Linked DNA regions of Homo sapiens. The protein of the gene in region 1 purifies or fractionates together with the protein of each later gene. This does not show direct contact. Each region holds a gene or a part of one and is shown in the gene's direction. Other genes may lie near its edges. The genes, in order: MRAS and PKLR.

What was found.
Region 2: the proteins of MRAS (region 1) and PKLR purify together in Homo sapiens (affinity purification with mass spectrometry; one large-scale study listed by BioGRID and IntAct). This does not show direct contact.

The regions. Positions count from the first base shown.
Region 1 is NC_000003.12:138,375,979-138,379,789, forward strand, and holds part of MRAS (ras-related protein M-Ras isoform 1 precursor), read left to right. Parts: intron 1-3,811. UniProt on the Homo sapiens protein: Signal transducer in the Ras-MAPK signaling pathway that regulates cell proliferation and survival. Core component of the SHOC2-MRAS-PP1c (SMP) holophosphatase complex that regulates the MAPK pathway activation.
Region 2 is NC_000001.11:155,298,462-155,302,921, reverse strand, and holds the start of PKLR (pyruvate kinase PKLR), read left to right. Parts: upstream 1-1,483; 5' UTR 1,484-1,526; coding exon 1,527-1,626; intron 1,627-1,969; exon of another isoform or gene 1,970-2,034; coding exon of another isoform or gene 2,035-2,041; intron 2,042-2,641; coding exon 2,642-2,824; intron 2,825-4,460. UniProt on the Homo sapiens protein: Pyruvate kinase that catalyzes the conversion of phosphoenolpyruvate to pyruvate with the synthesis of ATP, and which plays a key role in glycolysis.

The DNA.
Region 1 (3,811 bases):
CTCCCTCTCAAAAAAACAAAACAAAACAAAAAAACTTTGTAAATATGTTTTAAAAGCACTGAATTATATACTTTTAAAGTATTAATATTATGGCATGTAGATTGTATCTCAATTTTAAAAAGCACCGTCCTCCAAGGGTTTGTCTGCAGCCCTGGGACTTTGAACAATTTGAACAGGTACCAAGCACCTTCCCATCTTGGGACTTTGCATTTTGTCTTCTCTCTGCCTAGAACATTGTTCCTGCAGAAACACTGATTTCATTTAGGTCTCAGCTCAAATGTCACTTTATCTAAGAGGTCTTCCCTGACCAAACCATTGACACTAGTATCCACCCCACCCCAGTCATTTCTATGCCCAACTCTGTTCTTCTTTATTCTGCCTTTTATGGTTGGACATATTTTATCTTTGTTTGTGTTTTTGTCTCTGCTGACTAAAATATAAATGTCTGAGAGCAGGGACTTTATTTACTGACTGCATTATTCCTAGCATCTAGAATACTGCTTGGCTCATAGTAGCTCCCCAGTAAACATTTGTGGAATGACCAAATGAAAGAATAAACCTTGAACAATATATGTGTAGTGAAAGGTTTGATGTGCTAGCTATATTATTTTTTTCTAACTCACATTACAATAATAAGTATATATAACTATTAAAATTAAAACTTACATCTGTGCACTTTCTAAAATCATTTCATGCATCACCTATTGGAATATATGGCACACTTTGGGATATACTGAGTTAAATAAATGTAAACAAGTTTCTTCACTGCAGGACTTACAAGAACTTTTAACATGCAAACACATATTAGAGGTGTAGTGATAGGATACATTGTCCTTAGAGCTTCCCACAGGGGTCATTTTTTGCACGTGATTCTGAACTATGTTCCATAGAGAACATTCTGAAACACATTGCATAATGCATGTAAGAAAGTAACACCATGCCTGGTACATCGTTGGAACTCAATCAGTATTTCTCTCTACAGCCATATAAACTTCTCTGACTTTTTCCTGAGTACCTTTGGATGTTAAATTGGTTTCTGAGGAAAAATGTTTTCCTCAAGATTGAATGTTTTCCTCAACATTTATAGCAGGAGCAGCAGGGAGAGGGGAAACATGGCCGCAGCATTATATTAGAAGTGTGCATTTGCAAAGCCTGTGTTCTGAATGCCTGGGCTCTCCATGGCATTACTTTAGAAGAATGAGTTTGTTAAGCTTCTAATTCTGCCACCAGAGTCAGGCCCGATTTAGGGCATTGCCCACCCAGGCCTTCCTCGGGAATAGACACCAGATTCCCAGATTAGATGCTTCTCCACTCCATTAGATCTGCTATTAAGAAAAGGAAGACTTGGCCGGGTGCGGTGGCTCACGCCTGTAATCCCACCACTTTGTGAGGCCGAGGTGGGTGGATCACGAGGTCAGGAGTTTGAGACCAGCCTGACCAACATAGTGAAACCCCGCTTCTACTAAAAATACAAAAAAAATTAGCCAGGCCTGGTGGCGCCTGTCATCTCAGCTACTCGGGAGCCTGAGGCAGGAGAATTGCCTGAACCCAGGAGGCGGAGGTTGCAGTGAGTAACTCTGAACCTTTCTGGGGCTGAACTTTTCTGGAGTGGTCTGCACCCCTCAGATGGCCAGGACTTCCCTGGGCATCTGGATCCCAGGGGTCCTGCTCCCCTGAGGCCATGCCATCTTCGGGGAGGTGCTAAGCCTGGAGGTGCCCTCAGTTGCCCTGTACCCCACTGAACTCCAGGGGATCTCAACTCTGCAGTTTCTCTTCTTCCAAACTCAGAAAGAATAAAAACGTGGCAGCACGATGATGAGGAGAAGGAAGAGAATGATAATTTTGATGACGGGGTATTGAATGGGCAGAAACTGTGTGGAAGGCCCGTGCTAAGCACATTGCATTTGCTGTCTTTGAATCCTTACAAATGCTATCGTGGTAGTTGCTGTTGTTATTTCTGTTTTATAGTTGAAGAAAATACAGCAAAAGTTTCACACAACCAGCAACAGTTTGAGCTACCTGTTGACTCCTACCCACTGTCAGTCTGGTTGTGTAGGAAAATCCTCCCCCACAGCACAGTGGATCCTTGTGCCTCTGGGAAGGGGAGCTGAAGTCCCAGGAAGAAGTGGGTGTGGCTGAACTATCATACCTCTTCTGCCCTTCTTACTCCTCACCCAGGGTCCTTCAGAGAACCAGGTGCTCCGGTTGTGATCTCAGTCTCACGTCAGAGATTTGCAAGCTGCTTAAGGAAGCCTTCTCTGTGACTTCCACACTGATTATTCTCACAGGCTGCCTGCTTTCTTGCAAACCTGTTTCTTGTTTTCTTCCAGGAAGTCACATTGCCTGTGTCCTCCCAGAACCTAAGAGACAAGAGCTGGCTGGCCTCAGGGGCCAGCAGCCAGGCTCTCCTGTGGCTGTGGGACCCCCAGGCTTTGGAGCAAGCCTGCTCTGAGTTCTTTCCTGCAAGGGTTCGGGATCCTCATCTCACTTTATATTGTCAAGGGCCCAACCCTCGGAGCCTCTCTTCCTCCCCGTCTGGTCCCTGCTTCTCCACTGTGGGGTTTGCTTCGGCTGTCCCATCTCCATGCTCTCAGCCCTCTCCTCCTGTCTCTGACTTTGGAACACCACCTCACCTTGGCTTTCAGCTGTGTGACTGCCCTCACCCCAATTCTCTCTTGTCATGAATCAGGAAGCCCCAAACCTTCGGCAGAGCCATAGAGTTTTGTGTTTGTTTGTTTTATTGTGATAAAGTGTACATAACATAAAAGTTACCATCTTAACCATCTCTAAGTGCATAGTGCATTCACTTTGTTCTACAACCATCCCTGCCATTCATCTCCAGAACCTTTTCACCTTCCTCAACTGAAACTCTGTACCTATTAAACACTGACTCCCCATTCTCCCCTCTCCTCAGTCCCTGGCAACCACTATTCTGCTTGCTCCCTTTTCTTTTATTGATATCATATTCATACATATTTTGAGGGCATGGTAATGATCAAATCCAGGTAATTAGCATATCCATCACCTCAAACATTCTTTCTTTGTATTGGGAACATTACAATTCTTCTCTTCTAGCTATTTTGAAATTTGCAATGAATTATTGTTAACTATAATTTCCCTACTGTGCTATCAAATACTAGAACTTATTCCTTCTCTTTGTATTTCTGTACCCATTAACCAACTTCTCTTCATCCCCCCACCCACACACCCTTCCCAGCCTTTGATGTCAATCATTCCACTCTCTACCTCCATGAAATCCACTGTTTTAGCTCCCACATATCAGTGAGAGCATGCAATATTTGTCTTTCTGTGCCTGGCTTGTTTCACTTAACATAATGACCTCCAGTTCCATCCATGTTGCTGCAAATGACAGAATGTCTTTTTTTTTTTTTTTTTTTTTTTTGAGACGGAGTCTCACACTTGTTGGGCAGACTAGAGTTCAGTGGCACGATCACTGCAACCTCCCCCTCCCGGGTTCAAGCAATTCTCCTGCCTAAGCCTCCCAAGTAGCTGAAATTACAGGCACCTGCCAACACGCTCGGCTAATTTTTGTATTTTTAGTAGAGATGGGGTTTCACCATCTTGGCTAGGTTGGTCTCGAACTCCTGACCTCAGGTGATCTGCCCACCTCGGCCTCCCAAAGTGCTGGCATTACAGGCATGAGCCACTGCGCCCAGCCTCATTCTTTGTTATGGATGAATAATATTCTATTGTGTATATATGCTACATTTTCTTTATCATTCATTCATTGAAAGGCACTTAGGTTGCTTCCTTACTCTTGGCTATTGTGACTAGCGCTATGATAAACATG
Region 2 (4,460 bases), on another chromosome or scaffold:
ACACCAGTCTCTACAAAAATAAAAAGTCAGCACCTGTGGAAAGAAAGGAAAAAAATATTTTTAATAAATAAAAATTTAAAAAGTAGCCAGGCATGGTGGTGCACACCTGTAGTACTGGCTACTTGGGAGGCTGAGGTGGGAGGATCGTTGGAGCCCAGGAAGTCAAGGCTACAGTGAGCCATGATCACACGAGTGCACTCCAGCCAGGGTGACAGAGTGAGACCCTTTAAAAAAAAAAGAAAGAAAACAAGGCTGGGCATGATGGCTCACACCTGTAATCCCACCAGTTTGAGAGGCCGAGGCTGGTGGATACTTGAGGCCAGGAGTTGGAGACCAGCCTGGACAACATGGTGAAACCCCATCTTTACTAAAAATACAAAAATTAGGCCAGGCACAGTGGCTCACACCTGTAATCCCAGCACTTTGGGAAGCTGTGGCGGGCAGATCACCTGAGGTCAGGAGTTCGAGACCAGCCTGACCAACATGGTGAAACCCCGTCTCTACTAAAAATACAAAAATTAGCCAGGCGTGGTGGTGCATGCCTGTAATCCCAGCTACTCAGGAGGCTGAGACAGGATAATCGCTTGAACCCAGGAGGCAGAAGTTGCAGTGAGCCAAGATCACGCCACTGCACTCCAACCTGGGCAACAGAGTCAGACTCAGTCTCAAAAAAAAAAAAAAAAAGAAAAGAAAAGAAAAAAGAAAAACAAAATTAGCTGGGTGTGGTGGTGCACGTCTGTAATCCCAGCTACTCGGTAGGCTGAGGCAGGAGGATCGCAGAGGTTGCAATGAACTGAGATTGCGCCACTGCACTCCAGCCTGGGCGACAGAGTGAGACTCTGTGAAAAAAAAAAGAAAAAAAAGAAAAAAGAAAAAGAAAAAAGGAAGGAAGGGAGGGAGGAAAGAAAATTTCCCTGGGGGTAGGAGTCTATAAGTTTAGCAAAATAGTCGATCTTTCAGTGTTTCCAGCAACAACCTAATCAAGTTTATCAGTGTCTGAGAATGTTCAAGGTACCATCTTGGGTTCAAACATGTAGGCGAAAACATGCAGCTGGCCAGGTTACAGAGTGGTGAAGGCACTCTGCATTTCTTGGTTGAGACAGAGAAAAAAAGTGGTCAGAACTGGGTAACCCTCCCCCCACCATATTATCACAGTGATCCCTTTTGTCTTTCTTCAGGCTCCAGCCCCACCCTACAGCCCCTGCTCCCTGGATTCACTAGAGCTAACTTCAGTAAAGTACAAAGAAAATGGGGCCATATGACTGGCCAAAAAAAAAATATCTATTCACGTGGATGACCAGATAGTATGAATGGATTGAAAATTTATCAGGAAAAAAGGATGAGAGGAAATGCCAGGAGATGAGGGCAGAGAGCAGGCCGTTCTGGGGGAGGGATTCTGTGGGGACAGGGTGGCCTACTGGGTGTGCCCCTTTTCTCTTCTCTGTCTCCCTTAGATAAGACCAGCAGTTTTGTCATCCTCTCCCTCTCATTCCATGGTCCCGCAGCCCCAGGCCCACACTGAAAGCATGTCGATCCAGGAGAACATATCATCCCTGCAGCTTCGGTCATGGGTCTCTAAGTCCCAAAGAGACTTAGCAAAGTCCATCCTGATTGGGGCTCCAGGAGGTAAGAAGGGGAGACAGAAGCCATGGAACATAGGAGGAAAATGAGGGTGAAAACTAGGAGCCAGGGTGGAGGGCATAAATGATCCACATCAGCCACTGGCTAGGTGGGTTTTGGAGAGGAACGTACGTTCTTCAGAGCCTCCCGTGTGTTAAATTATGGACCCTGGCCTGGGTCTTTTCCAGGCCCTATAGGCAGGCCAGAGCCACAGCATGTAAGCCACGGGGCACTCCCGTGGTTCCTGGACTCTGGCCCCTGGCATACAGGGCTTCCAATGGAACAGGAGACAGTGGTGACACTTTAACCAGTCTGCAGAACTGATCCCCAGCCCAGCTGGGCCTCATGCCTCTGACAACCCAACAGTGTGGAGCAGACCCACAGAGAGGGAGACCCAGAGAGGTGTGCAGTGGCATGGAAGGTGCGGCTGGAATCGGGGGCTCCTCTGAACTGGGATGGGTCAAGCTACAGGGACCTCTGTGTCTGTAGCAGCTTTGAGAAGCCTGGGGAGACTCAGAGGATGGGGTGGGGAAGCCAGCCAGTAGCCAGGGGTTGGAAGGGAGAAAACAGAGACCTTTGGAGCAGGAACTGGGTGATTCTGGGTCTGCATAGGGTGAGGCTGCTGGGGACTAGACATCAAGGGGTGGTGGGGTTGAGGGTCATCAGTAGCTGCAGGTCGGGGGGTCCTGGGTTGTGCGGGGTCAGTATAACTGAGTGGTCAAGAACTTGGGCTAGAGTTAGTCAGACCTAGATTTGAATCCTAGCTGATCCATACTTAGAAGCTGTATAATATTGGACCATTTATTTCCTGTTTCTCAGCCTCTGTTTCTTTATCCATAAAATTGGATAATTATAGAACATTTAACAGTACCTGCTTTATAGGATCCTTGTGACATAATAAAATAATATATGCATGATGCCCAGCTCATAAGAAGGGAAGGAACAGAGGGTATGCTGAGAGACGAAGGCATGGGGAGGAAGGGCAGGTGACATGCAGTCCCTGAGCCCCCTTCTACCACAGGGCCAGCGGGGTATCTGCGGCGGGCCAGTGTGGCCCAACTGACCCAGGAGCTGGGCACTGCCTTCTTCCAGCAGCAGCAGCTGCCAGCTGCTATGGCAGACACCTTCCTGGAACACCTCTGCCTACTGGACATTGACTCCGAGCCCGTGGCTGCTCGCAGTACCAGCATCATTGCCACCATCGGTAAGCACTCCCATCCCCCTGCAGCCACACAGGGCCTATTGGTATTTCTTGAGGTGCTTCTTCATCTTTTGTCTCCTTTGAGACTTCTCCATGTTTGACACAGTCATTCATTTAACAAAAATTTGTTGAGCATATAGTAGACAAGATTTTGGGCCCTGGGAGTAGATCAGTGAAAAAAACAGACAAAAATCCCTACCCTTGGGGAGCTGACAGTCTAGCTGAGTATGACAATAAATAGTAAGCACAATAAATTATTTAAAATAAGTAAATTATTTATTCCGTTAGAAAGTGAGGCCGGGCATGGTGGCTCATGCCTGTAATCGCAGCATGTTGGGAGGCCCAGGTGGGCAGATCACTTGAGGTCAGGAGTTCGAGACTAGCCTGACCAACATGGAGAAACCCCGTCTCTACTAAAAATACAAAATTAGCCGGGCATGGTGGTGCGTGCCTGCAATCCCAGCTACTCAGGAGGCTGAGGCAGGAGAATCGCTTGAACCCAGGAGGCGGAGACTGTGGTGAGCCGAGATCACACCATTGCATTCCAGCCTGGGCAACAGGAGAAAAACTCCATCTCACAAAAAAAAAAAAAAAAAAAAAAAAAAAAAAGTGGGCTGGGCTCAGTGGCTCATGCCTGTAATCCCAGCACTTTAGGAGGCCAAGGTTGGCAGATCGCTTGAGCCCAGGAGTTTGAGACCAGTCTGGGTAAATGGCAAAACCCATCTCTACAAAAAATACAAAACTTAGTTGAGTGTGGTGGTGCATGCCTGTAGTCCCAGCTACTCAGGAGGCTGAGGTGGGAGGATCACTTAAGCCCAGGAGGTCACGGCTGCAGTGAGTCATGATCGAGCCACTGTACTCCAGCCTAGGTGACAGACGAGACCCTAGAGAGAAAGAGAGAAAGAAAGAAAGAAGGAAAGAAAGAAAGAAAGAGAGAGAGAAAGAAGGAAGGAAGGAAGGAGGGAGGGAGGGAGGGAAGGAAGGAAGGAAAGAAAGCAAGCAGGCAAGAAAGAAAGAAAGAAAAGAAAGAAGGAAGGAAGGAAGGAAGGAAAGAAAGAAAGAAAGAGAAAGAAAGAAAGAAAGAAAGAAAGAAAGAAAGAAAGAAAGAAAGAAAGAAAGAAAGAAAGAAAGAAAGAAAGAAAGAAAGGAGTGAAAGTTGGCCGGGCATGGTGGCTCTTGCCTATAATCCCAGCACTTTGGGAGGCTGAGGCAGGTGGATCACCTGAGGTCAGGGGTCCGAGACCAGCCTGGCTAATGTGGTGAAACTCTGTTTCTACTAAAAATACAAAAAATTAGCCAGGCATGGTGGCATGTGCCTATAATCCCAGCTACTCGGGAGGCTGAGGCAGGGGAATCGCTTGAACCCGGGAGACAGAGATTGCAGTGAGCCAAGATCACGCCATTGCACTCCAGTTTGGGCAACAAGAGCGAAACTCTGTTTGTTTGTTTGTTTGTTTTTAAAAAAAGAAAAAAAAGCTGGGCGCGGTGGCTCACGCCTGTAATCCCAGCACTTTGGGAGGCCGAGGCGGGCGGATCACCTGAGGTCAGGAGTTCGAGACCAGCCTCAACATGGAGAAACCCCGTCTCTACTAAAAATACAAAAAATTATCCGGGCATGGTGGTGCATGCCTGTAATCCC